3 separate regions of the Homo sapiens genome follow, and all the other regions are linked to region 1. Evidence: fine-mapped expression QTL. A gene starts in region 1. Each other region holds a variant in brackets. All regions are shown on one strand. Distances are between the middles of the regions.

Region 1 (8,179 bases):
CCTGCCTCGGCCTCCCAAAGTGTTGGGATTACAGGCGTGAGCCACCATGCCTGGCCGTCAGTTAGTTTTATGAAGCTTTGGTGCTGCTGCAGCCACCACAGCCTGACATCCCCTGTCTGTGGGGCTGCCAGAAGTAACCCTGGCCAGGGTAATGCTACCCCATGACTTTCTCGCTTTACTCTTATGTTGGCAAAGGGAGAATCAATGGTTAGAGCTTAGCCATAGGCATTTCAGTAGTTTTTCTTATTTACAGTTGTGTTGGATACAAAACAGTTTTACTTGTTCCTTAACGTGAGTCTAATGAAACCCCATAAATAACCTGTGTGCCCATGAAGGGTCACCTTGGAGCAGTCATTATTTACTATCTCAGTACTCTATTTTATTCCTCAACTGGATTTTTTTACTTCTTATTTCAGTGCCCCAAATTCCAACAATCAGGGATTCATTTGGAAAAGGAGTTCTCTATTTTAAAAAATGCAAATATTATGGTGAGGTTAAGGACTTGGAAGCTATTCACACAGTAGTGAGACATCAGGAATTCAATTTGATTGCTTTCCCGTGCCCTGAAGGAATGAGAATTTTGATTAGAGGGAAAGGAAGGAGAAACTTTAGAGAGCAATTAGGTTTGTGGGAGAGGCAGATTATTTAGGGCACTTGGACTCTTCTAGAAGAAGTGGGAAGTAGGACATTAGAAGGTGCCACAGACGCATTTGACCTCCTTTGAATGTTTGCTCAAGGCTGGTCCCAAACAGAATCATAATATGTTGTAACAGAAAGTAGAGAGATGACGAGCACAACTGTGTTTCACATGATTGAGTCCCAGAAAGAGGAAATGGCTTGCCCAGCTTCACAAAGTTAGTGAACCTACATCTGTGTTTCTGACTTTCAAGCCAACCCTCATTCTCCAATACTCCACTGTGCCACCAGCCGAGGAATGCATTTCCCTCTTCTTTGCCTCCAGGACTTAGAACTCTAGCAAGTGCTCCGGTTCTACTGCTCCTGAGCTTGTGAAGCCCATCAAAGCCTTTCTGGGAAAGGCTTCACCACTCCTAAAATCTTGTTTCCACGGGAAAGTAAATTTCTGGTCATAAATCACAAACTTGCCAACCCACTTCTGGTCCACAGCCCACTGTGGGTCAGGATTGCCTGTGCCTTGCAGAGACAGAAGGCTCATCACCAGATGCACTTGCCTTCACTGCCTTTTTCTCAGGCATACTAGTCTGTCCTGGGTGACAGTCGGAAGCCTGGGGAAGGGATGTATGACCTCTGAGATGTTAAAAGGCCACAGTGCTGCTGTGCAAGGCTCCCCGGCCATCTGTTTCCTGTCACCCAGGACAATAACTTTCAAGAGTTGTCACGGGAGGAAATGGCCCTTGGGCCTTACCCTATGCGTCTCGGTGGCTCTGTGAATCCGCAGCACAATTTATGGTAAGCCCAGTGGTGACCATAACAACAACTTAGACATAGAGTGAGCCTAACCCTGTGCCAGGTGCAGGGTGCTGTCCCAAGGGATGAGCGGAAGCCCCCCACCTGGAGTCCCTGAAAAGATGATGAATAGAAGGGGGAAGATAACTAAGGGCCAGGATGAGGAGATGAAAATGAAAAGGTTATGTCTGGGAGATAGATAATAATAATAATGGTCTTCCCAGATCCACTGCTTCTGCTATCCTCATAACACCTTCAGACCCATGCGAGGAAGGGTGGCTATTTGGCACATGAGGCAGGGGGAAGGCTCCAAAGAGCGTTTAGCTCAGGAAGAAAGCTTTGGATTTGATTTGACAGTGGCAGGGAGACAATTCCTTGACAAAGATGAGGAGAAGTTAGTGGAACCTGACACCCTGGGACTTTAGCCCCATCTCTGCTGTTTACTGGCTGCGGTTATCTTGGGCGAGTTGCCATGCTGTGCCTCCGTTTTCTTTTTGTAGAATGTGGATAATAATAGCACTACCTCACAAAGTTGTGAAGATTCCATGAGATTCTGCATGCAATGTGCTTAGCATTGTGCTTGGCATGTCATAAGTGCTCAAAACGTGTTGGCTATTATTATCAATATTAGTTAATTTATCAGTACTAATAAAATGGGTGGAGTGATAATCACACAAAATGATTGAGTTGGAGAGATTAGAGTCAAGGCAGAGGCCAAGAAGCAGGCGGGGAGGAAGAGGACAGAGGATTTCCACAGGCAAGGGACTCTGATTCCACTGACACATATTGAGCACCTCCTGGGTACTAGGCATGGTTCTGGGTTCTGGGGATCCTAGGTGTGCAAGCGTGGAGGCAGGCAAGCTGGAACCAACTAAGCTGCTATGATGGAAATCTGTGCAAGTGGTGGTGGGAACCTAGGAGAAGGATTTGGGGGTGGGGGTGGGGAGGGAGTGAAGAAGTCTAGAGCAACCACAGGAGGGCTAAGAAATGCTTTAAGGGAAGAACAACCAGATTTGGAGCAACGGGACCCAAGGTGAACTGTGAGGAGACAACCAGTGGGAGGTCAATGTTCTGAGTCCCAGATGGCCAAAATGGGGGATTTGGAAAGTAGGTTGGGAAGGAAGAGGGAGCGATCTCAATAGCACAAATGAATCACAGATTTCCTCCTTAGCAGGAAACATCCCTGAGGGCTGCCTCAGACTCTGACAACCATAAAAGAAAACCCACAGCCACCTCTTGAAAATACTTTCCAGGCTTCTGTCAATGTTAGTTTAAACATAGGGATGTACAGGAATCTCTGTCTTGGTTCTTTGGTGTCCTGGGAGTTGTGGGGAGGTGAGCAAGCAGTATCATGTGCTCCTGCAGTGAAATGCTTTTCTAGGTCACACCTGAAAGTACCCTCCCCAGGGTTGGAAGTGAGAAGATGACTAACTCTCTCTCATTAAGGCATTACTGAAACAGGCTTTCTCTGTATGGTGTTCTAAAGAAATAATTGGATTTGTGTAATCCAGTCGCAAAGCCCTGGGTACTCCACTCCCTTCCAGAGAACACACAGTGGGGAGGAACCAAGGTCCTGGGAGGTGGGGTCGCAAATTCTTGGCTAAACACCATGTGTAGAAAGGACCCATATATAAGAGGTGGTTTCAGGCTGCATGCTTCTGACTGCACCGGGATTAGAGCTTGCCCAGGCGCTTAAAGAAGCAAAATCTCCTGTGCAGGTAAATTTCTTTAGTTCCAAGGGTGGGTCCAAGTTAGCCCAGAGGCCCTATGAGACTCTACAGGGTCTGGGTTTAGAAGGTGAGAGGATGGTATTTGCTTCTCCTGGTTTGAGCTTTGCAGGTGAGTGTATACAGAAAAAACCCTGGAGTCTGGAGATTTCAATTTTGTCCTCAGTTTTGCCATCACTTATTAGTGTGACCTTGAGGAATAGACTTCAGCCCTTTGGCCCCAATCTCCTCATTTAAAAAAAAAGATGGGAGTATCTTTGGGCCTGGGTAATTTCTGAGGTCCCTCCAGCTCTGGTTTCTCTCGAAGTCATTTGGTAGAGTTACTGATGCTGCTAGGTGCTGTCATTTCCCAGAACATAGGCCATCCCAGTTGTCTCCTGAGCCTCCTGATGAGAAGGAATCTGGGGGCAGCCAGCTTATCACTGAGGCCTTATGGGATCCTCAGAGTCAAGGAGGCCGACTGTTCTCTGTTCTGATAAGCAGTGAGGCTGGGCTGACTTCCTGTATGAAATTAGATGTGAAAAACACACTGGGACGGTGACCACACTATAAGAGTGAAATATTGCCTCAAATGATAGCTGTCAGTGTGGTGCTTGGCACGGCCCTTGCCTAGATTAGAAATCTCGAAATTGCCCTTGTCTGAGTGGTCTGCTGGCCTATGGGCACTGGAAATCACTCCTCAAAGCTCTGGAGGACTCCAGAGCGAGGTAGTCGGCTCTCAGTTCAGCTTATAACCCTCTCCTATGGAGGCACAGGGTGACAATGTTTTGGTGGGTGGTACCTAAGTGTTTCAGCCTGGGTACATCTTCCAGGCCTGATAGGGTGAGGGGTGTCTTTGACTTTCTAGGGGGAGAATTCTTGGATGAGTTAGGTACTGGCCATTTCACAGAGTGGGCACCTCATGCTGAAGAGTGAGGGCCCTTTCTAGAGTGTGAGCCTGGTCGTTGGACTGTGACTTCCTCGAGGGCAGAAATTCTGTCTAATCCATCCTGTACCCCTACCATCTAGGGCAATGCCTGGCCCATGGGGAAGCATGCAATAAAGCCTTGTTTAAATGAATTGATTCTCCCACTTTTCAAACTCCCTTGTAAATCTCTCTCCTGACCATCAAAACAAGCAGTAGAAAAGGAATGGAATTGATGTAACTATCAGTGGTATAATTGGTTTGGTGATAGATCGCTCGACCTCAAGGGTAACCACTAAGCTAATTTCTAACATATAGATTGGTTTTGTCACTTTTGAAAGTTATGTAAATGGAATCAAAGAGTTTTTGTGTCTGGATTTTTTCTACTTAATATTGTTTGTGAATCTCATCATATTGCAGCATGTAATTCTTGTTTGTTCAGAGCTGTGAAGTATTTCATTGTATAAATGGTTATCACTATTATTAATATTTATCCATGTTCATGGACATTTGGGTAGTTTTCATTTGGGGATATTTTGCATATTTCTGTTGTGAGTATTCTTGTACATGTCTTTTGGTGCATAGATTTAAGCATTTCTGTTGGGTAATAACCAGGAATGGAATTGTATCATATAGTTTGTATGTGTTTAGCTATAGTATTTACTGTCAAATAGTTTCTTTTTTTTTTTTTTTTCTTTTTTAAGATGTTTCTAATTGACTTACTTTTTCCAAAAGTTTGCCTGGGTTTTTAACTGCATACTTTGATCTTCTGGAGTAGCGTTAATCAGAGCCTAAAATGACCGGCCAAGTCTTCCAGCCCAGGAGTGGGCTTGGGAGAGGAGGGGGCTGTTAACCAGCATTCTCTCCCCAGTTCATGAGTGTGAGTGAAGGGCAGGAAAGCCCCACAAGGAGAAGACAAGAGGTTTCCAGGGAAGGCTCTGGAGAGGAGGGACATTTGCCCTGAGCTTTGAAGGATGAGGGAGATTTGAGGTAGAGGGGGTCAGGAGGAAGCGACATCTCCTTTGTAAGTTTGGACAGAGCAGAGGGTGTGTGGTGGGGGTTTGTGTACACAGAAAGGAACTAACACACCAAGAGCCTGGCCATTTGGACTTGAGGCCATGAGCTGTGTGGTTTTGAGGGCGTGACGTGAAATGGCCAGTCCTATGGCAAATGCAGGATCAGAGGAGGAGATGAGCTACCTCAGTCTGACCGCTCATCTAGCTCAAATTCCATGACTCTCTGAAGATGCAAATGCCCCTGCAAAAAAAAAAAGGAATGAATTTACATCTGCTTTAAAAGTCTTTCCTGTCCAAATGTGTTGTCAAATGTTCAGAATCATTTGATATTTTGTTTTAAAAAATCAGAAGGATTGGCTCTTTAAAAGCGTGGGAATGGATAGAAAAAGAAGAGTAGGGGATGACTCTCAGACTAGGGTGCCGCTACCTCTTGGGGTTGAAAGTGTCAGAGCAGGGCAGCTGGAGGGGAACAGAGTGACTCCACTGAAGTCATAGTTTAGGAGGAGGCTGTACAAAGAGGGTGTGCCTGTGCCGGAGAGAAGAGATGATGCCCCAGGGCTCCCCCAACAGTCAGGCCAAGCAGGCCATGACTCCCTGGAACTGCTCAGAGGTCCTGTCAGTACATGGGGGCACTGAATTGGATGACCACTAAGTTCCTTCTAGCCTCATATTTGGTTCAGCTGCAATGAGCGACGCCAGGGTGCAACTTCCACAAAGGCCGAGCGGATGTTCCTTTGCTCAGGGAAAGCTGTGTCCAGGTCGTGGCAACTCAAGGTGTACACCCATGCTCCAGGGAGTCTTATTCTCTGCAAAGATTTGTGACTATGCAGTGTCTCATAAAGTCAAATGGAAGTGGGGCAGCTGGGGGTGAGTAGGGAGCTCCAACAGCCAAGTTCTTAGACCTCCATAGAGGCATGCAGTCAGCCCAGGGGACGCCTACCCCAGCATTGCCAGTTAAGGGACTTCCTGCCGCTTCTCCCCCACCTTCTCCCAAGGTGCATGTTCCCTTTGGAGACTTGTTTTTTCTTTTAGGTCTGACCTTGGTTTTACTTCCCCAGGTTGCTTTGACGTGGATCCCACATACCACCCAGGAAAGGAGCCCTAAGGCAAGCCTGGATGAGCATTTTGGAGGGGAAGGATGTTAAAGAGGCTCCCTCAACCTAAATCAGGCCCCAGCAATGTGATCAGACACCAGAGGAGCAGCCAAGTGATTGACAGTTCACAGGAAGTTTTTAACTTCCTTTATCTCAGTTCAGCTTCATAAGAGGGGAGGGGAGGGCACGCTTTATTGTTCTTTACATTTTCCAAGTGAAGAAACATCCATCCCTTCTGTCAGTGAGTCAATTGGCCAGCATTTATCAAGCATCTGTTTATTCATGGTATTATGTGACTATATCATGAATGATCACATCTGGGAATACAGATTTTAAAAAGCCTATACCATTCTCGCCTTCAAGAACTCATAGTTGGGCCACATTCATCATTGTTTACTGAAAGGCAAATGTCTGCTCTAATAAATGAAGAATCATGCTTGGGGTTTTCTGTTAGAAACTTGATCTAAATGCAGACAGATGTCTAAACAGTAAAAGAAAAACAATTTAAAGCCTTTCAAACCATTAACATTACAAAATCATTTCATCTTTTATGAACAGGTCATGATATGTACATAGAGATGCTGTTTTCCTGTTCGTAATCAGTAACCACAGAACCACCTGAAAACTGCCCAGGAATGTCTGATGTTATCACATCTAAATAAGGGATTAGATGTGAAACTTTAGCAGAGAGAAACTGCAGGCCACATTTGCAAGTGTTTTGAGACATGATTGTAACTGTAAATGTTAAGGGTCTATTAAAAAGTCAACGAATCAATTAGAGATAAAATTGTTTCATTAAGATAAATTCTTAATGATGGATTCAACCAACCACATTTTAATCTGTGAGTTCCTACTTGGAGCTTACCCCTGTGCCTAGCCCTGCAACAGCAATCTACCTGGTTAAACAGTGCTTTAGAGCAGTGCTCAGCAAACTTTGCCTATGAAGGACAGCATAGTAAATATTTTAGGCTTGTGGCCCCTAAGAACTCCGTGGCAATGACTCAACTCCGCTGTTGTAATGCGAAAGCAGCCACGGACAATACCAGACAGATAAGTGTGGCTGTAGTTTCAGTAAAACTTTATTTATCCAGGCTGTAGTTTGCCAACTCCTACTTTAGACTTTTGTCAAGTCTTTTCACACGATTATCTCTTTTGAGTTCTGAGAGTAGGCACAGTACATGTCATCCCATATTGAGGGTGAGGAAGCCAGCTCAGAGAGGATAAAGGAGTCAGCACACGGGCACATGGGGAAGAGGTGGCAAACTCACTTGCCTTCTGGGTTTTCCAATCCCAAACCCAGCACTCCATGGCCACTGCACACCACCTATTACACAAAAGAAGTACAATCCCTGCTCAAGATAAATCAGGCAAAGCCTATAGTTAGTCTTGTTCTTTTGTTCCGACTGTCGAGAGCAGGGAATTGATCATTTTTCAATCTGGTGCTTTTTATCATGTAGACAGAGTCTTGTACAAAGAGCCTAGGTTTCTACTACAATTTTGCCTGAGACAACTTAGTGGGTTGTGGCAAGATGCCAGAGTTCTCTGGAAATCCATCATCCCCCAGGAGGATTCTACAGGTTCATGTGAGTGAGTGCATGGTACTTATTTCTTTTGCTTCCGTTCCAGAGACCTGACTCTACCCTGTAGGTTGATCAAAGGCCAGGTGTTACATTCCCAGTCTGAGACATAGTGTCTAGCACATAGTAGGTGTTCAGTAAATGTGTGAATGAACTGAACATCAGGGCAGGGACTCAAGACACTGAATGGACCCCTGGGAATTAGTTCCTATTTTTGCACTCTGGTGAAATTCCTGGGAAATTCCTTTCTATTTCTTAGGATCTCAGTTTTTCCCACTTTAAAATGGAGCCCAGAATTCTCAACTGCTTCAGAGATGGTTGAAAAAGTAGCCACCACCAAAGAAAGCCAGGATTTGGGCAGATCTTATTTTTCCAAATCAAGGCAGTAGTTCATCATGATGATGCCAGTAGGACAGGAATCAGACAGATCCCCTGG
Region 2 (8,179 bases), 36 kb before region 1:
ATCAGTGACTCAGTCGTAGGGTTATTGTGAGGATCTAAACAAATCAGAGGATGCAGGTGAAACTGCTGAGCTGTGACCTTGGCTGTTCTCATTGCCCTGCTGTTTTTTGTAAAGCACTCCTTTTAAGCCCTAGTTTCTATGAGATGGGATGTGCTCTGTAGGAGTCACCAGAGGAGCACTGGCCTGGGTGAGTCCACCTCTCGTTTCCGCTTAGCCACTAACTTACTGTGTGTCCTTGGGCAAGAATCTCCCCTCTCTAGTCCTCTGTCTCTTTGCCTGTCAAATCAGGGGATTGAGCTGGACAACCTCCGAGCTTCCTTTCTCGGTTCACAATTCTCTGCATCTGAGACCAGAGGTGTGAGGGTGGGGAGTACAACAGGATGGATGGAGATTAGCTACAAGGGACCCTTTGCAGGCACAGCAAGAGAGAGAGGCTGCAGGCTGCTGTCTTACAGGCCTCGGGGATGCCTGTGTGAAGTCTGCCTCTGCCTGAGGACAGGCCAAGGGCTTCTGGGAACTCTTTCCGTGATTTTATAAGCAGAGGCCTCCTATTTGCTCTGGAAAGCTGCTATCCAATTACAGACTCAGTAATGCCAGAAGCTTCCAGCCAGGTGTGGCTGTGAAGACCATGACCATCAAGCAATGACTCCATGGGTTGCTCTGAAGCTCGACTTCCCTGCTCCTGGCTAACCCCGAGGCTGTGTCATCTGTAGGGTGGATATTTAGTTGTTCACTTGGCCTGGACTTAGGTGCAGATCTAGGAATGGCGGTATCTCAAAGGTATGGACTGGACCCAGTAAGAAAAAGGGTATGGTATAGGATTAGCTTTCTCATTTATTTGGCAAATCTGAACCTCAATTTTCTCAGCTGCAAAATAGGGATAACAAATGACTGAATGAGGGGTCTGTGGTAGAGCTGAATGAGGACTCTGTGGTAGAGCTGTGGCAACAAGATCTGACAGCACAGACTGCCTCAGCAGCTGCGGTGAGTGCTATGGCCAGTGACAGGCCCCCTTCCCCTCTCTGGTCCCAGCGATGGCTCTGAGACCCACAACGGTAGCTCTTGGGCACCTGCGGCAGCCCAAGTGTTCATGAAATATGGACTAGTGAGTCGGGGGAGATTCAAGCCCCAAGAGACAGAGCAGAGAAGCTGCCCTTCCTGGACTTCATAGCACAAGTCTGCTGGCTCTAAGAGGTCTAGTCAGCCAGCTCCGGGCCTGGAGACTGGGCAGCCTGCAGGGATCTATGGTCCCCTCCAACCGGAGGCTCCAGATGACTGGAAAGAAAGCACTTTGAAGTAATGCCAGGCAAGAGGAAATCAATCAGACAAACACAGTAAGGAAAGCCACCCCTTCCTCACCCGCCGGCTTCCATCATGGCCTGGCATGCAGTGCCTGGGCCCTCACAGGGCAGCATACTTCTTCGGGTTTCCAGCCACGTGACCTCATTCGCTCTTCATAATTCTCTGTATCCCAGGAGGTAAGTAGGGCATACACATCTTACAGGACAGGGAATCTGGACACAAAGAGATTAAGGGGCTTGCCCAAGCTCACACAGCCAGGTGGTGGCAAACTCAGGCCTGGAACCCAGCTCCTTGACTTGCAGCCCACATTCTCTTTCTATAACAGCTCACAGCCATGTGAGCCTGAAGCTCAGAGGCTGAGCCCTCAAACCAGGCACTTACTTGCGGTGGGTACATACAAAACCCCATCCCTCCCCAAAAAAATCTCCGTCAAGATTTAAAGGCATTTGAGCAAAAGAGGAATAACAAGGCATCAATTTCCAAAATGTGGGAAGAGTTTGGCTGACAACGGGGAAGAAATGCCACATTAGATGCTTCCCAGAAGTAACGGCAAAGAGCGGCCCGAGCAGATGGTTGGCAAGGCCTTTTGAAGGGCGTCAGGACTCGGCTGCTCTGCCCAGGCACAGGAGCGCCCACACAGGCGTGCCTGTACCGGCACGTAGTCTGGGAAGACCCAGAGGCCTTTAAGTGCAGGCTCTGCTCCAATGAGGGTGCCCTGGATGGGCTAGGAATGTGAGGCTGCAAGGATCAGCCCAGACCTGCCAAGGTCTGAGCCCTAAAGACCCCTAGAGGAAACCTGGAGATGAGAGGTTTGCCCTCATTCCTACCCCCTGTGCTCTTCCGGGGCAGGTGATGATAATGTGCTGAGAAGCCGTGGACCAGGAATAGGAAGACCCGAGTTCCCTAGATGTGTGATCCGGGCAAATTTTCAACCTGCTCTGGCCTTACTGAGCTCACCTGTGCAGAAAGGGGCCTGTGGGGAGGAGCTTCAAGCTGTGCAGTCTGTGATGTGAGCACAAAGCCCCGCCCTGCTTTCCTAAGGTGGCGCCTATGGGGATTTCTAGCTGGGAAGCAGCCAGGAAATGTGGTTCCTAAGCTCAGGACACTCAGCCTTCTGGAGCCCTCCCACTCCTGCTGCATCCTCACTTCTTCCCAGTAATGAGCCAGGCTGGGGCACATCCTGCCACTTCCAGGAACCACCTCCCTGTCTTCCTCCCCTGCCCACCCCAATGCATCTGCATCCAGAGACAAGTGCTGGCCCAGGACCTCCCAGAATCAGCTTCCCGGGCACCCCAGCCTTCTTCCCACAAGACACACCCCGCCCCAGGCCCAGTAGAGGGTCCACACCCTGAGCAAGGACGACCCTTTGCCGCCCTAGTCCAGCCTGGGGCCCGAGTGCTCCTTCCTGTGAAGCCTGAGGTCTTGGAGCCCTGGGAAGCAGCTCACTTTGCAGAACAGGCAGTCTAATATGGCCAGTAGGGGCCTCTGTGCCGACTTGATAACCATGCCCCTTTTTATCTGGTGAGACACAGCCCTGCGCCAGGTATGAGGCTCAGTGAGCAGAAGGTGGGCTGAGTTTCAGGTTCTAGATGCCCTCGTGTAGGACATAGTTGGCAGGACTATCCCAGGGAGGAAGGGTGTCCGGTCCTTGCCTGGGCTGGCTGGAGTAAGGCGAGAAGCACCCAGTCTGCTCTGTGGCCAAACCCAGAGCTCTTGGAGCCCTAGGCAAGAAGCCATGAGAAAGCAAGTTTTGTTCTATGCACACATTTGTGTGTGTGTGTGTGTGTGTGTGTGTGTGTGTGGGAGGGGGTTGCTGTGGGGAAGAGGGGAGTTGTGTATATGCAGGATATGTGTGAGGAGTGTGTATGCATGTGTGGGTGTGGGAGTGGGTGTGTGCGTAAAAGGAGGTATGGGTGGGGGAGGGTGGGGGAGGTGTGCGTCAGTTTAAACTGGA[G/A]CTATGTGTTCTAAGGCCAATTGTGAGAAAGAAAGGGGTTGGGCTCTGCACCCTGGAAACTTTACTCGTTTGGGGTACCACAGATAACTGAGGGTGTCTGACGCCCTTCCCCCAACTGTCCTGGTCTCCTCAGGGTGCTGAGGTCAGCACCGCCCCAGGCGCCAGCAGCCCAGTTCTAGCTCTTGTTTTTAACGCAGGCTGCTTTTGCCAGCAGCTGCATTTACAGTCTGGACTCAGGAAAGCAGAAAACAAACTGGCCTGCAAAGCCACTCCTGGGGCCATCATTTCTCCCAGAGGTAGGGGGACCTGGTGCTTAGTCAATGTGGGATGGGAGGCATTAGGAAGTGCAGGCAAGAACACCAAGGGCCTAATTTGCTTAAGGCAGTCACTGGGGTCCAAAGACAAAGGCAGGAGAGAGGTAGTGAAACCCCGTCTCTACTAAAAATACAAAAATTAGCTGGGTGTGGTGGCGCATGCCTGTCGTCCCAGCTACTCAGGAGGCTGAGGCAGGAGAATCGCTTGAACTCAGGAGGCAGAGGTTGCAGTGAGCCGAGATTACGCCATTGCAGTCCAGCTTGGTGACAGAGCGAGACTCCGTCTCAAAACAACAACAACAGCAACAACAACAACAACAACAAAAACAGAAATAGGAAAAGAATAGAATAGGATAGGAACTGAGGAAGGCAGGAGTCCCTGGGAACCAGCCTGCCACATACAGGTGCACAGGCTGTGCACTGCACAACTACAAGGGAAACTATTCACACAGATTACTCTGGGATTGTATGATAGGTGGTGCCAACTGACAGGGAGGGAGGGAGGAAGGTAGCTCATGGTGATCCAGACCCAGGGCTATGGCCCGTGTTTTCATATGGTCTATAGACCTCACAAGACGGCTGTGTGGTACATATCATTACCCCTTGTTACACATGGGGACACTGAAAATGTGACCTGTTGAGACACACACAGGTTCTAAAGCCCAGAACTCTGAATTCCTAGTACAGTGTCCTTGGAAACCGCAGAGGCTGGAGTCCTCTCTGGACCCGCTGGTCAGGCTACACTGGCCTTGCAGGTGCACATGTGACGTCCCCCAGGGAGTTCACACTGGGAAGGGGTGGCTTTCCCCAGCCTTCCTGGAGGAGTCCTGAGCTGCCTGAGTGAAACAGCAAATCCCCTTCAGGCTTAAACGCAGGGTAAACCCCAGATGAACCACTTGGGGTTGGGAATAGGTGGGTTAGGAGAAAGGGGGTGCTCCGGCAAACAAACCAAAGCAAGACAGAAAAACCACCCGTGCTGTCCCTCCACAGGGCCCTTAACAGGGAGCCAGGTGCTTACAGCGTGCGTGCTGGCTGGAAGGAGGGAGGCTCAGACATCCCTATTTTCCCAGGCCAGGGGTTCCAGCTCCCTATCACCTCCACCATACAGCCCAGAGATAGGGAGCCAGGAGATCAAGTCTTCCAAGACCCCCTTCCCAGGTGACACTGTGATGTCCCAGAATTCACAGGCCACCAATTACAGGAACTGCTAACACAGTTTCCCAAGTCCCTCCTGACTCAGTTGCTTCATTTCCCCTCTTCTTCCCAGGTCTCACCTCCTAAGCAAAGCAAGAGGTGGTAAGGAGGAAGGGCAGGGCTTTCCTCTCAGGATGTTCAGCCTCCCCACTCCCTCCCACCTGCTACAGGATGAGGACTCCAGGCTGTGTCTTCCCTGGAGGGCTGACTCGGGTTAACCTGGCCCTTGAGCAGGCTGCTGACCTGGAGGGCCTCTCTCACTGTCTTCCCTTTCCACTCCCAGCCATGGCAGCTCACACACAGGCATAGTGTAGCCTCAAAGAGCCGAGCCTGGCCCTGCACCACACACCTGCCCTCATCAGAAGAGAGCTGCTTTCTGCAGAGAGGACACCAAGGCAGCTCACAGGAGCACTGGACAGAAGCCCAGGTCTGGCACTAGTGGCCTGCACCTGGGCCAAGGGCCTGCACCACTTGGGCCTCGTCAATACACAACTGCAGGAGCACTGGCCTGTCACACCATGAGGCTGTGACCTCTCCTCTGAGGGGTCTGGGGTGAGCAGTGCTGGCCTGGGCAGGCCATGCTCTTGCAGAAAGAGCAAAGGTTTCTGGGCCCCACTATTGTGGCACAGACATGGGCAGGGCAGATCTGTGTCCCAGCCAGAGCCACAGAGCACAGAGGGTGAAGGCACATGCAGACAGTCACCTACCTAGGTCCATTCAGGCAAGAGTTCTAGCTGCTTCCCAGAGAACCCCAGCAGTTCAAAGCCCTTCCTTACCCATAGGCTGACTTCTGAGTGCTGATGTGGCTCCAGCCCTGGCAACTAGCTCCAATATTGGGGTGGGCATGGCGTCATCTGATTTTCTTGCCAGAGATACAACACATGGCACAGAGAGGGTAGTGGGCTATACAGGACACTCAGCAAACTGTGCCAGGACAGGCTGGGGGTGGGGGCCCAGAGCAGTTGTTTTTAGCTTTTGATAGCATCTGCCTAGCATTTTAGAGTTAGAAAAAAGAAAACAGGCTGGGTGCGGTGGTTCCCGCCTGTAATCCCCAACACTTTGGGAGGCCAAGGTAGGTGGATTACGAGGTCAGGAGATCGAGACCATTCTGGCCAACATGGTAAAACTCCGTCTCTACTAAAAATACAAAAAATTAGCTGGGTGTGGTGGTGCACGCCTGTAATCCCAGCTACTTGGGAGGCTGAGGCAGGAGAATCGCTTGAACCCGGGAGGCAGAGGTTGCGGTGAGCTGAGATCGTGCCACTGCACTCCAGCCTGGCAACAGACTGAGACTCTGTCTCAAAAAAAAAAAAAAAAAGAAAACAACGATGATGATGATGATCATCTATAATCCCTCATGGTTACTAGGTACTTGCTATGTGCCAACCAGAAAAGGCTTTTTATCTTAAGCATTTCTTTTAATCTTCAAACAACTCTGTAAGATGGATAATACTATTCCCACCCCACCCGCCCCCACCGCCCCACACCATTTTTCAGACAAAGTAACTGAAATAAAGAAACCTGCTGAGGGTCACTGTGCTATGAAGTGGCAGAGGCAGGCTTAGAACCCTGCCAGCCTGACTCCAGAGTTCTGTCTTCTAACCACCATACCAGGCAACCTCCTTTAATGAGCAATTATCCTGTATTTATCTGTAGTGAACAGTTTTTGAAGTGCTTTCACTACCTGGTTCCCTCCTCTTATGACCCAGGGCACTGATACCATTGAGCTGAATTTCTCTGTATGCATTTGGCTGCCCTGCAGAGCTGCAAGCTCCCCAGGAACTTAAGAAGCAAGCCAGGATCAGGGCCATGGAAGGTGCCCCTTGTAGCATGAATAAACCCAACGAGGTAAGACTGATATTGATGTCTTCATTTTACAGATGAGAAGACTGAGGCCAGCTATCTCCTGAGCTACGGTGGACCTGAATTCCCCTCTCCCGACCCCTGCCAACCCCGGCCTAGGACTGCCCCAGGTAAAATGATCCCACACAGCACAGGAGAAGTGCCGGCTCACCAAGGGACAGCATGGCCCTGGGTGCTTCTCTTCTGGTATGTAAGAGACTGAACGTGCCAGAACCATGGAGCCCACAGCCAACACCCCTCAGGCAGGTTGCTTACCCCGGCTGATCCTCTGCTTCTCCCCAGAGAGGATCCCTGGTGTGTCGATGACGCTGATGCTCTCCAGCACAGGGTTAGGTAGCTGGGCACACACGAACCTGCATGGGCAGAGGTAACCTGGGTGAGTACTCGCCCACCTTTCATGACCTAGCCGCATGACTCCAACCACCTGTCTTGTCTCTCTCAGGTGAGCTGCAGGTGCATCCTGAAGGGTTTAGTTCACCATGGACTTGCCCAGTTCAGGGTGTGGCTGACAGCTGACCCGGGGCTGAACCCCAGTCCTCTTGCCTCTCCCCACATCCAGTGTTAAGAGCGCCCTGCACCCGGGTGTGTTTGGTAAAATGCTGTGTGACCAGCAAGCAGGGCTACTCCATAGCGACATTGGGTCTTCATGTGTGATCAAAGCCTGGGTTTAATTCTTATGGCCCCAAGTCCTTAGTTTGTCCTTGGTCAGCTACCTCCTTGCCTTGAGTTACTCCACTTAGCTTGGCCCTCTCTAGGAACCTTAGCTTCTTTAGATAGCCAATGAGAAGACCCCCTGGCTCCTCTTCAAATGAGCCCCTAGGGACTAGCGGGGCAGGAGGGACTTCAAGGGTCTGTCCCAAACCATCACTGCAGAGTCAGGGTCTGGGGAGCCTCCTTCTGATTTGATCCTTGTGGGCCAAGTGGCTGTGCTTCTCTGTTTATGTCCTCATTTGTAAATGGGGTATCATTCAACAGTAACTGAGGCCCTACTCTGTGCAAGATAACAGGCTGGGTGCTATGGCCAGAGGATCACAAGCCTGGCTGGCTTAAAATGGAGACTCCCAGGAGCCAGGCCAGAATCCCAGCCCCAGCCCCAGAAGTGGGTCTCACTCAGGCTCTATGCCTTGAGGAAGCTCCCTGGATGATTGTGAGGCAGCCATGGTTCATGCTTGCCAACTCCTGCTGTTGGGGACACTAAGATATCCAAACCTCGATCCCTGTCTCCAAGGAGCACAGCCTGGTGCAGGACAGGAGGCCAGGAGGCCTGTACATGGACAAGCAGAATACACAGTGCAATGGGACCAGCACCCTGAGAGAAGTCAGATGTAGTGTTTGGAAGATTCAAGGCAGAGAGATGGCTTCCTGGAGGCAGAGGGAGGGCTTCCTGGAGGAGGAGGCACTGGAGCTGGCCTCGAAGAATGGGAACCACCCAGGAACATTTATTTGGGCATTTAAAGGCCAAATATCTCTATTAGGAAAGCAGTCAAGTGTTATTTAAGAGAAGCGAGGGAAGGGGAGCAGACAAGGGGTGTGAAATAGGACCACTCAGCAG
Region 3 (8,179 bases), 98 kb before region 1:
ATGGTCCTTTGATTACACTGCGTCCTTCTAAATGACTACCAATGGGGACTTCCAGTGACTTTTGTGGACACTTACCCCATGGAAGTCTGCAGGATGGCTTGCTGCTGCAGGTAACTCTGGGCAGAAGAGTGGGTTGGCACCCCCTTTAAGCCTGACAAAATTCCTCATGTGAGTTTATGAGTTCCAAATAATAGTAATAAACTCAATAACTCACTAGGTAGGTGTTTGGTAAATGATCTTTTGATGTAAAAATGAAATTGTATAAACATTAAAGGAGGATCAGTGAGTGGCTTATCGGAACCATCCTCCCAGTATTCCCCGGGGTTAAATGTTATACCCTGAGAAGGCTTGACAAGAGCTCTGAATCATCTGAGCTGGTTATTGAAAATGCAGGTTCAGGGCCCCCCTTGCAGAGATTCTGGTTAAATAAATCTAGAGTGAGACCCAAGAATCTGAATTTTAAACAAGCCCTGGAGGTGATTCTGATGCATGTGGTCTGCAGATACAAATTGATGGAAAATGCCCAAAGAGAATGGGGCCCCTCTCTGCCAGGTGTTAAGAGCACCTGCTATTCTGAGCAAATGCTATTCTGAGAGCATTTGCAGGCTGGAGTCTGCCTTTATGAGCTCTGGGTGGGAAGGTAGTTCAGGCTGGTTTATACAGCCACATACAGGGAAGACAGTGAAGAATGCCCAAACATAGGGGGTGCTCTATGCTGGAGAAATGTTTAGTTTAATCCTTGAGTTGCGACAGGTTGGCAGGAACTAAAGATCTCTTAGAGAGGGATGGGCCTGAGGCATGAGAGACGCAGAGGCCAGGTCCAGAGATGCAGCGTGGAAGGGAGGGGACCATGGAGAAGGATAGAAGGACATAGCAGAGGGGATAAAGAGAAAAAAACGCATGTACACATGACACCTATTATAATTATATGTTGAGGGCTTTGCCTGTGTCAGCCCATTCACTCCTCAGCACAGCAGTCTAAGATGGCAATAACATTCGTTTTTTACATGAGGAGACAGTGGCTCCCAAAGGTTAGAATAAGAATGGAAGTCAGAGTTTTATTTCAGGACCATGTGGTTCCTAAGCTCTCACTCTTGATTTTGTGTTTCTTTAGGCAAGTAAATGATGTTTAGCCACTATACCCATCTATATACGTATTCATTATTTCATTCATTCACTCAACATGAATGAGCTCCTGCTAAGTGCCAGGCACTGAGACAGGGGCTGAGGATTGACAGGTGGACAAAAGAGACACTGCCTTAGATCTTAATAGGAAACATGAATATTAAACAGTCAGACACGTAACTATAATTTTGCAAAGAGTTGGAAGAACTGAAAAGGAAAATTGCAGGTTCTGTGAGAAATAAAGCGGGGACCCTTAATTTAGAGTGGAGGGTCAGAAAAGGCCTCTATGGAATGTTGGACTTGAAGGATGGGTAGGAATTAGCTAAGCTCAAGTGTGGGGAAAAATGTCCCAGAACTGTGCTGTCCAAAAGAACTGTTGTGCTGTCCAATATGGTAACCATCAGCCACATGTGACTAGCAAGCACTTAAAACGTGTCTAGTGTGACTGAGAAATAAATCTTAAGTTTTGTTTAATTTTAATTAATGAAAAAATACATATTTCTTAAAAACCACATGTGGCTAGTGGCATCTGTATTGGACAGCACAGCTCTAGAACAAATGGGAAGTTTAAGCAAAGGACCTGAACTGAAAAAGGGTTTGATGGCTTCCAGAAGCCTAATTTGTGGTGGGTACAGTGGGGAGACTGAGACAGCATGAGGCCTGAAGGGAACAGGGCTCAGAGTGTGCAGACACTTGAAGGAACAGGGCTCAGACTGTGCAGACACTCAAGGGAGCAGGGCTCAGAGCATGCAGGCACTTGCAGGCCTCATGAGGGGTTTTCAATTTTACTGCAGTGGGGAAGTTGTTGAAGGATTTTGAGGAGAAGAGTAACTTGGTCAATTTTTGTTTTAAGATCACTTTTCACTGTAGCAAACGGATCAGAGGGAGCTAAAGTTAGAGAAAGGAAACCAAGGAGTAAATATTGTCATTTCCTAAGAAAGAGATGTTGGTGGCTCAGCTTAAGGTGGATACTGTGGAAATGAAGAGACATGGGTGGATGTGGTATAATTTCTAGATAGAATGGATGGAACACACAGTTTTAAACATACAGAATCCAGTAGCCTAGGCCTGTGTTGTCTAATATGGTAGCCGTTAGCCCCTTGTGGCTCCTTAAATTTAAATTAATTAAAATTAAATGAAATAAGTCTTTCTGCACTGTACCATTCACATTTCAAGTGCTCAAAGGCAACACGTGACCAGTGGCTGCCATTATTGTACAGGGTAGCCTTTAGTGAACATTCCTGTCATTGTAGAAACCTCTACTGGGTAGTGCTAAAGTCACTTGGAGAAATGTTTAAAAATGGATCTAGAAGAGGTCATCAGGTCCAACACCCTCACCGTGGAGGTGACATGCTGGGGGACACTCAGCTGATTCCTGGGTGTTGCTGGAGTGGTGCCTAAACCAGGCTCTCGGGTGGCAACCTTTTCCACCCAAAGCATCAGAAGCATCATGGGCAGAATTGCCTGCTTCCCCAAGGGCTTTGTATCCTGAGAGAAAGGCCCTGCTCCAAGAGCACAGGGCAAAGCAGTTCTCACTCCTCCCCAGGCTTTTATCCAAGAGAGGGGAATGGGAGCAGAGGGGAAGGGCACATGGGTGGAGTAATGAGACCCACTTGTCAGAAGGCTAAACTAAAGCGTTACCAGCGGTGTTTGTCTAAGGAAAGGCTTCTGAAAGGCTCAGGCCTGATTTTGACTCAAACCATTTAATAATTCTATGGCAGCCTGAAAAAGAAAGGCTGAGATAGAAACAACAGAAATACAACCACCATTATTGTTTCCAGCTAACATGGCCTATCACTGGAGGCTCAGAGAACGTGTCTTTAGTTACTTCTGCAGAAAATAATGCATTGCTTTCTGAAAGCCACACACCACCCAGGCCACTCAGTCCATCCCCTCACTCAAGAAACACCACAGAAATGGATTCCAGAGAAATCCGATCAGCATACCCTTGCCACACAAGGCAGGACCCCAAGTGACCCTTGTTGTCTCCAGAAAGCATAAGGAAGAAGAAGAAAAAAAAATCCAAGGTACCAAATCCTCCTGGTGACCTAGTAATCTGGGAACAATTAAGCGAGTTCACAGGAAGTAAGTAAAGCGAGGAAAAAACTTTGTTTTCATCACCTCTGAGTTTCTAGTTAGGGACAGGGCTTGGCTCAGAT[A/G]AGTCAAAAGGAGGGGAGTGGGGAGCTGCTGGAGGAGCAGGCTTGGGGAGGAGAGGAATGCACAGTGGGAGGATACCTTGGTTTGCTAAAGCTGGGACACACTTCACTGTGGGACCATGGGTTGATCTCCACCTCCCCTACCCTGGCAGCTCAGGACTGCAGGACTCAGGGTCACAGGCCCTAGGAGATGACCAGATCCCACCTCAATGGCAGCAGTGGTGCCCTGACTGTCTTCTAGTATTTCTTGTTGCCCTGTGCCCTCTTGGAGTATGGACAGATGACGCATGACTATGCCACCTCCATGTGTCATATCCCTCGGTCAATACTTGAATTTCCATCTCTCACATTTGTATTGTCATTACTCTTGAATAGGATAACAAGGATGGGCTACCATTAGTTGAGTATTGCCTATGTGCTGGGTGCATTGCTAAGGGCTTCATGTGCATTATCTCAATTAAACTTCACAATCACCCTATGGGACTATTGTTATCTCCACTTTACCAGTGAAGAAAATGAGGCTCAGAAAAGTGAATATGATATAGCAATCATTCTCCTGGGTATTTGCCCAATTGAGTTGAAGACTTAGATCCACAAAAAAACCTGCACATGGATGTTTACAGCAGTTTTATTTGTAATTGCCAAAACTTGGAAGCAACCAAGATTTCCTTCAGTAGGCGAATGGATAAATAAACTGGTACATCCAGAGAATGGAGTATTATTCATTACTAAAAGAAAATGAGCTATCAAACCATGAAAAGGCATGGAGGAAGCTTAAATGCATGTCACTAAGTGAAACAGCCAATCTGAAAAGGCTACATATTGTGTAATTCCAACTACATGGCATTATGAAAAAGGCAAAACTATGGAGACAGTAGAAGCATCAGTGGTTATCAGGGGTCTGGGGGCAACAAAGGATGAACAGGTGAAGAACAGAGGATTTTTAGGGCAGTGGAACTACTCAGCATGATGTTGTAATGGTGGATGCATGTCATTATACATTCGTCCAGACCCTTAGAATGTACACCAAGAGTGAACACTAATGCAAAGTATGAACTTTGGGTGATAATGATGGGTCTGTGTAGGTTCATCAATTGTAACTAATGTACCGCTTCAGCATGGGATGTTGACAGTGGAGGAAGCTGGGGTTGGGGGTGATATATGGGAAATCTCTGTACTTCCAACTCAATTTTTTTGGGAACCTAATACTGCTCTAAAAATTAAAGTCTAGCCGGGCACAGTGGCTCATGCCTGTAACCCCAGCACTTTGGGAGGCTGAGGCGGGAGGATTGCTTGAGCCCAGGAGTTTGAGACTGGCCTGGGCAACATAGCAAGACCCTGTCTCTACAAAACTGAAAGATTAGCTGGGCATAGTGGCATGTGCCTGTGTTCCCAGCTACTCAGGAGGCTGAGGTAGGAGGACTACTTGAGCCCAGGAGGTCAAGGCTGCAGTGAGTCATGTTTATGCCACTGCACTCCAGCGTAGGTGATAGAAGGAGACCCTGCCTGAAAAACAAAAAGTCTATATTAAAAATAAAAGCATCAGCATCTGTTCAAGGTCCCCGCACTAGTGACCAGTGTAGCTGGAACCCAAGTGCCGGGCTCTTCAACTTCAGATACTACGTTCTCCACCTTTATGGTGTCCCATATCACTGCAGGCTTTCATACCTCACAAATACTTTTGTTTTTAATTAACCACTTTAGTTCACAGTGATCCTATGATGTCAGCATTAATTCTATTTTCCAGATAAGGAAATAGGCTCAGAGAAGTTAACTAATTCACTCACGTCATGTACTGGGTGGGTAAGTAGCTGAGTCAGAGCTTGAATCTGGGCTGAACTACTCAAATCTCTGTGCTCTTCTCAAATAACACACATCATCCAGACACTCATCTGATTAAGCAGACACACAGTGCTGTCTGAGCTGATTACTGCACCTGCAGTAATCGCCAGGGATAGCGATATGACTCTATCAATATGACCTATCCATATGACTTCTGCTAGACCTTAAGTCATTCCACCAGCTGCTGGCAGTAGTTGGAGCCTATGTAGATGTGGGCCACATCACCACCAAAGCAAGGTGCATGAAAAATGCTTTGTCAGTGGTTCACACCTAGAAAACAGGGGTGTGTGACTAGTGGAGAGAGAAGGAAAGAGGGTGGTAACTGGGTTAGTGTGCTGAAAAACCGATATCCAAGCCCAGCACCTCACTTCTCACCAGAGAAGGCTCAGCTCTTCTACCCACTGAGCCTTCGGATGTGGGGCCATGGGTAGCCAGACCTCCTGGTTATAGGGGAAAGCTTACAGCAGCAATGGTCATGGAGAAGGCCCTTTGGAAACACTGAAGAACATTTAAAACTCCCTTCTCTCGGCTGGGCATGGTGGCTCACGCCTGTAATCCCAGCACTTTGGGAGGCCGAGGCAGGCAGATCACACGGTCAAGAGATCGAGACCATCCTGGCCAACATGGTGAAACCCCATCTCTACTAAAAATACAAAAATGAACTGGGCATGGTGGCACGTGCCTGTAGTCCCAGCTACTCAGGAGGCTGAGGCAGGAGAATCGCTTGAACCTGGGAGGTGGAGGTTGCAGTGAGCTGAGATAGTGCCACTACACTCCAGCCTGGAGAGAGAGCGAGACTCCATCTCAAAAAACAAACAAACAAACACAACAACAACAACAACAACAACAAGAACAAAACTCCCTTCTGTCTCTGTCCTTTCTCTAAAGGCAGTTTGACAATGTCCTTCTTTCCCTCGTAAGTGGAGAACTTGCCTGATTTTAATCCTGGGCACATGCTGGTCTCCTCTCTCCTTCTGGCCCTCTTTCTTCCCCTTGCTTCTAGGCCACATGCCTTTCCTTATTCTCTCCTAGGAAGGGAGGAGATGGAGGGAGCTGCCCATGTTTTCCTTGAGTTTTGGCAAGAGTGTAGGGTTTTAAACCTCAGTGTTAACTAACCACTCCAGAATACTGCAGGAATAAACCAGGAAAGCCAAGAGAACCCACAGACCCTCTGAAGGAAGTGGATTGCCCCTGCAAAACCCGGGAGACAGCCCAAATACTGTGAGTGCCTAAGCTGTGGAGGTGGGAAAGGGGGATCGTCTGCCCCCAAACACATACCCTCACTGGGGAACCTGAGGGTCTAAATTATGGGAGAAGATTCTGACCTTACCTGGAGCTAAGTCAATTTAGAAAGCTGAGCAAAATACAGTGGTAGAGGAAGCAGTGGCAAAAACCCTGTGGGCTCTGAGTCTCCTGGGAAGCTATTTCAGACTTGTCTGACAGGGGTCCTTGGGGAGGGGAGGAACTAAGAAAAGACCACAGGGAGAAGGAAATCTCCAGCTGAACTTTGTAAAAATTCCAACCAAACGCAAAGTTTCCTGGCCAGAACTCAGGGGAGGGCATGAATCTGTTGTGCAGAATCCACAGGTGGGGAAGCACAAAAGCCCTACTTGCTTTTGCAGCTGGGAGGCTTGTAGCCTGGGGCAAGTTCTCAGCCCTGTTCACCTGCTGGCTGGAAACAGACTGTTGCTGTTGATGGGGCTGGGTGGGACACAGTGGGAGTGAGACCCACTTTTTGGGTCATGTGGAAGCTGGTTGAAGAGTGTGACTTCTGGATTTCTCCCACTTCCTTGACCACCTGCATGACATAGCAGAGGCAGCCATAATCCTCCTAGGAACATAACTCCAATGACCTGGGAACCACAGCCCCAACCCCCACAGCAGCTGCAGCAAGACCCACCCAAGGCTCAGACACGTCGAGCCCCACCCCCACCTGATGGTCCTTCCCTATCCACCCTGGTAGCTGAAGACAAAAGGCATATACTCTTGGGTGTTATAGGACCCCCAACCCACCGCCTGATCCTCCCTATACTACCACAGCTGATGCTCTCTTGAAAGCACCACCCCCTGGCAGGAGGCCAACCAGCACAAAAACAGTGCATTAAACAACCCAAACTACGGACCCTCTCAGAGTCCAATTCACCCCCTGCCACCTCCACTGGAGCAGGTGTTGGTACCCACAGCTGAGAGACCGAAAGACAGTTCACATCACAGGACTCAGTGCAGACAACCTGTAGTACCAGCCTGAAGCCTGGTAGACTTGCTGGGTGGATAGATCCAGAAGAGAGATAACAATCGCTACAGCTCGGCTCCCAGAAAGCCACATCCCTAGGAAAAGGGGGAGAGTACTACATCAAGGGAACACCCTGTGGGACAAAATAATCTGAACAGCAGCCTTGAGCCCTAAATCTTCCCTCTGACATAGCATACCAAATGAGAAGGAACCAGAAAAACAATTCTGGTAATATGACAAAACAAGGTTCTTTAACAGCCACCCCCCAACCCCTGCCAAAATCACACTAGCTCACCAGCAATAGATCCAAACCAAGAAAAAATCCCTGATTTACCTGAAAGAGAATTTAGAAGTTCAGTCTTAAGCTAATCAAAAATGCACCAGAGAAAGCTGAAGTCCAATTTAAGGAAATAAAAAAAAATGATACAAGAAATAAGGGGAGAAATCTTCAGTGAAATAACTAGCATAAATAAAAAACAATCACAACTTCAGGAAATAAAGGACGCACTTAGTGAAATGCAAAATGTCCTGAAAAGCCTCAGCAATGGAATCAAACAAGAAGAAAGAACTTCAGAGCTTGAAGACAATGTTTTCAAATTAACCCAATCCAACACAGACAAAGAAAAAAGAATAAGAAAAAATGAACAAACCCTCTAAGAAGTTTGGGATTATGTTAAGCAACCAAACCTAGGAATAACTGAGATTCCTGAGGAAGAAGAGAAATCTAAAAGTTTGGAAAACATATTTGGGGAAATAATTGAGAAAAATTTATTTGGCCTTGCTAGAGACCTAGACATCCAAATACAAGAAGCTCATATAACAC

Direction of the effects. Positions count from the first base shown, and alleles are read on the strand shown. Sizes are in standard deviations (SD) of each study's normalised expression.
For the expression in tibial nerve of the gene that starts at base 3,084 in region 1, allele G in region 2 goes with a lower level than allele A (small effect, 0.30 SD a copy in GTEx).
In carriers of allele G in region 3, the expression in esophagus mucosa of the gene that starts at base 3,084 in region 1 tends to be higher than with A alone (small effect, 0.37 SD a copy in GTEx).

Evidence for each region.
Region 2: its variant is fine-mapped to the expression of CAPN14 in tibial nerve (GTEx, PIP 0.90).
Region 3: its variant is fine-mapped to the expression of CAPN14 in esophagus mucosa (GTEx, PIP above 0.99).

Annotation. Positions count from the first base shown.
Region 1 is chr2:31,212,420-31,220,598 of GRCh38, reverse strand. CAPN14 (calpain 14) reads left to right here and starts at 3,084. Exons shown (of 22, transcript NM_001145122.2): 1 at 3,084-3,143. RefSeq lists enhancers at 5,460-5,960, 5,961-6,461.
Region 2 is chr2:31,248,172-31,256,350 of GRCh38, reverse strand. EHD3 (EH domain containing 3) reads right to left here. Exons shown (of 6, transcript NM_014600.3): 3 at 6,883-6,980. LOC124905983 (a long non-coding RNA gene) reads left to right here. Exons shown (of 4, transcript XR_007086270.1): 3 at 6,645-7,003. Among named protein-coding and RNA genes, the nearest start is that of EHD3, 18 kb to the right of the region's middle. RefSeq lists enhancers at 1-144, 3,096-3,175, 3,456-3,505, 3,546-3,625. The variant G/A (reference allele first, on the strand shown) is at 3,257.
Region 3 is chr2:31,310,058-31,318,236 of GRCh38, reverse strand. No RefSeq gene overlaps it. Among named protein-coding and RNA genes, the nearest start is that of EHD3, 80 kb to the right of the region's middle. The variant A/G (reference allele first, on the strand shown) is at 3,285.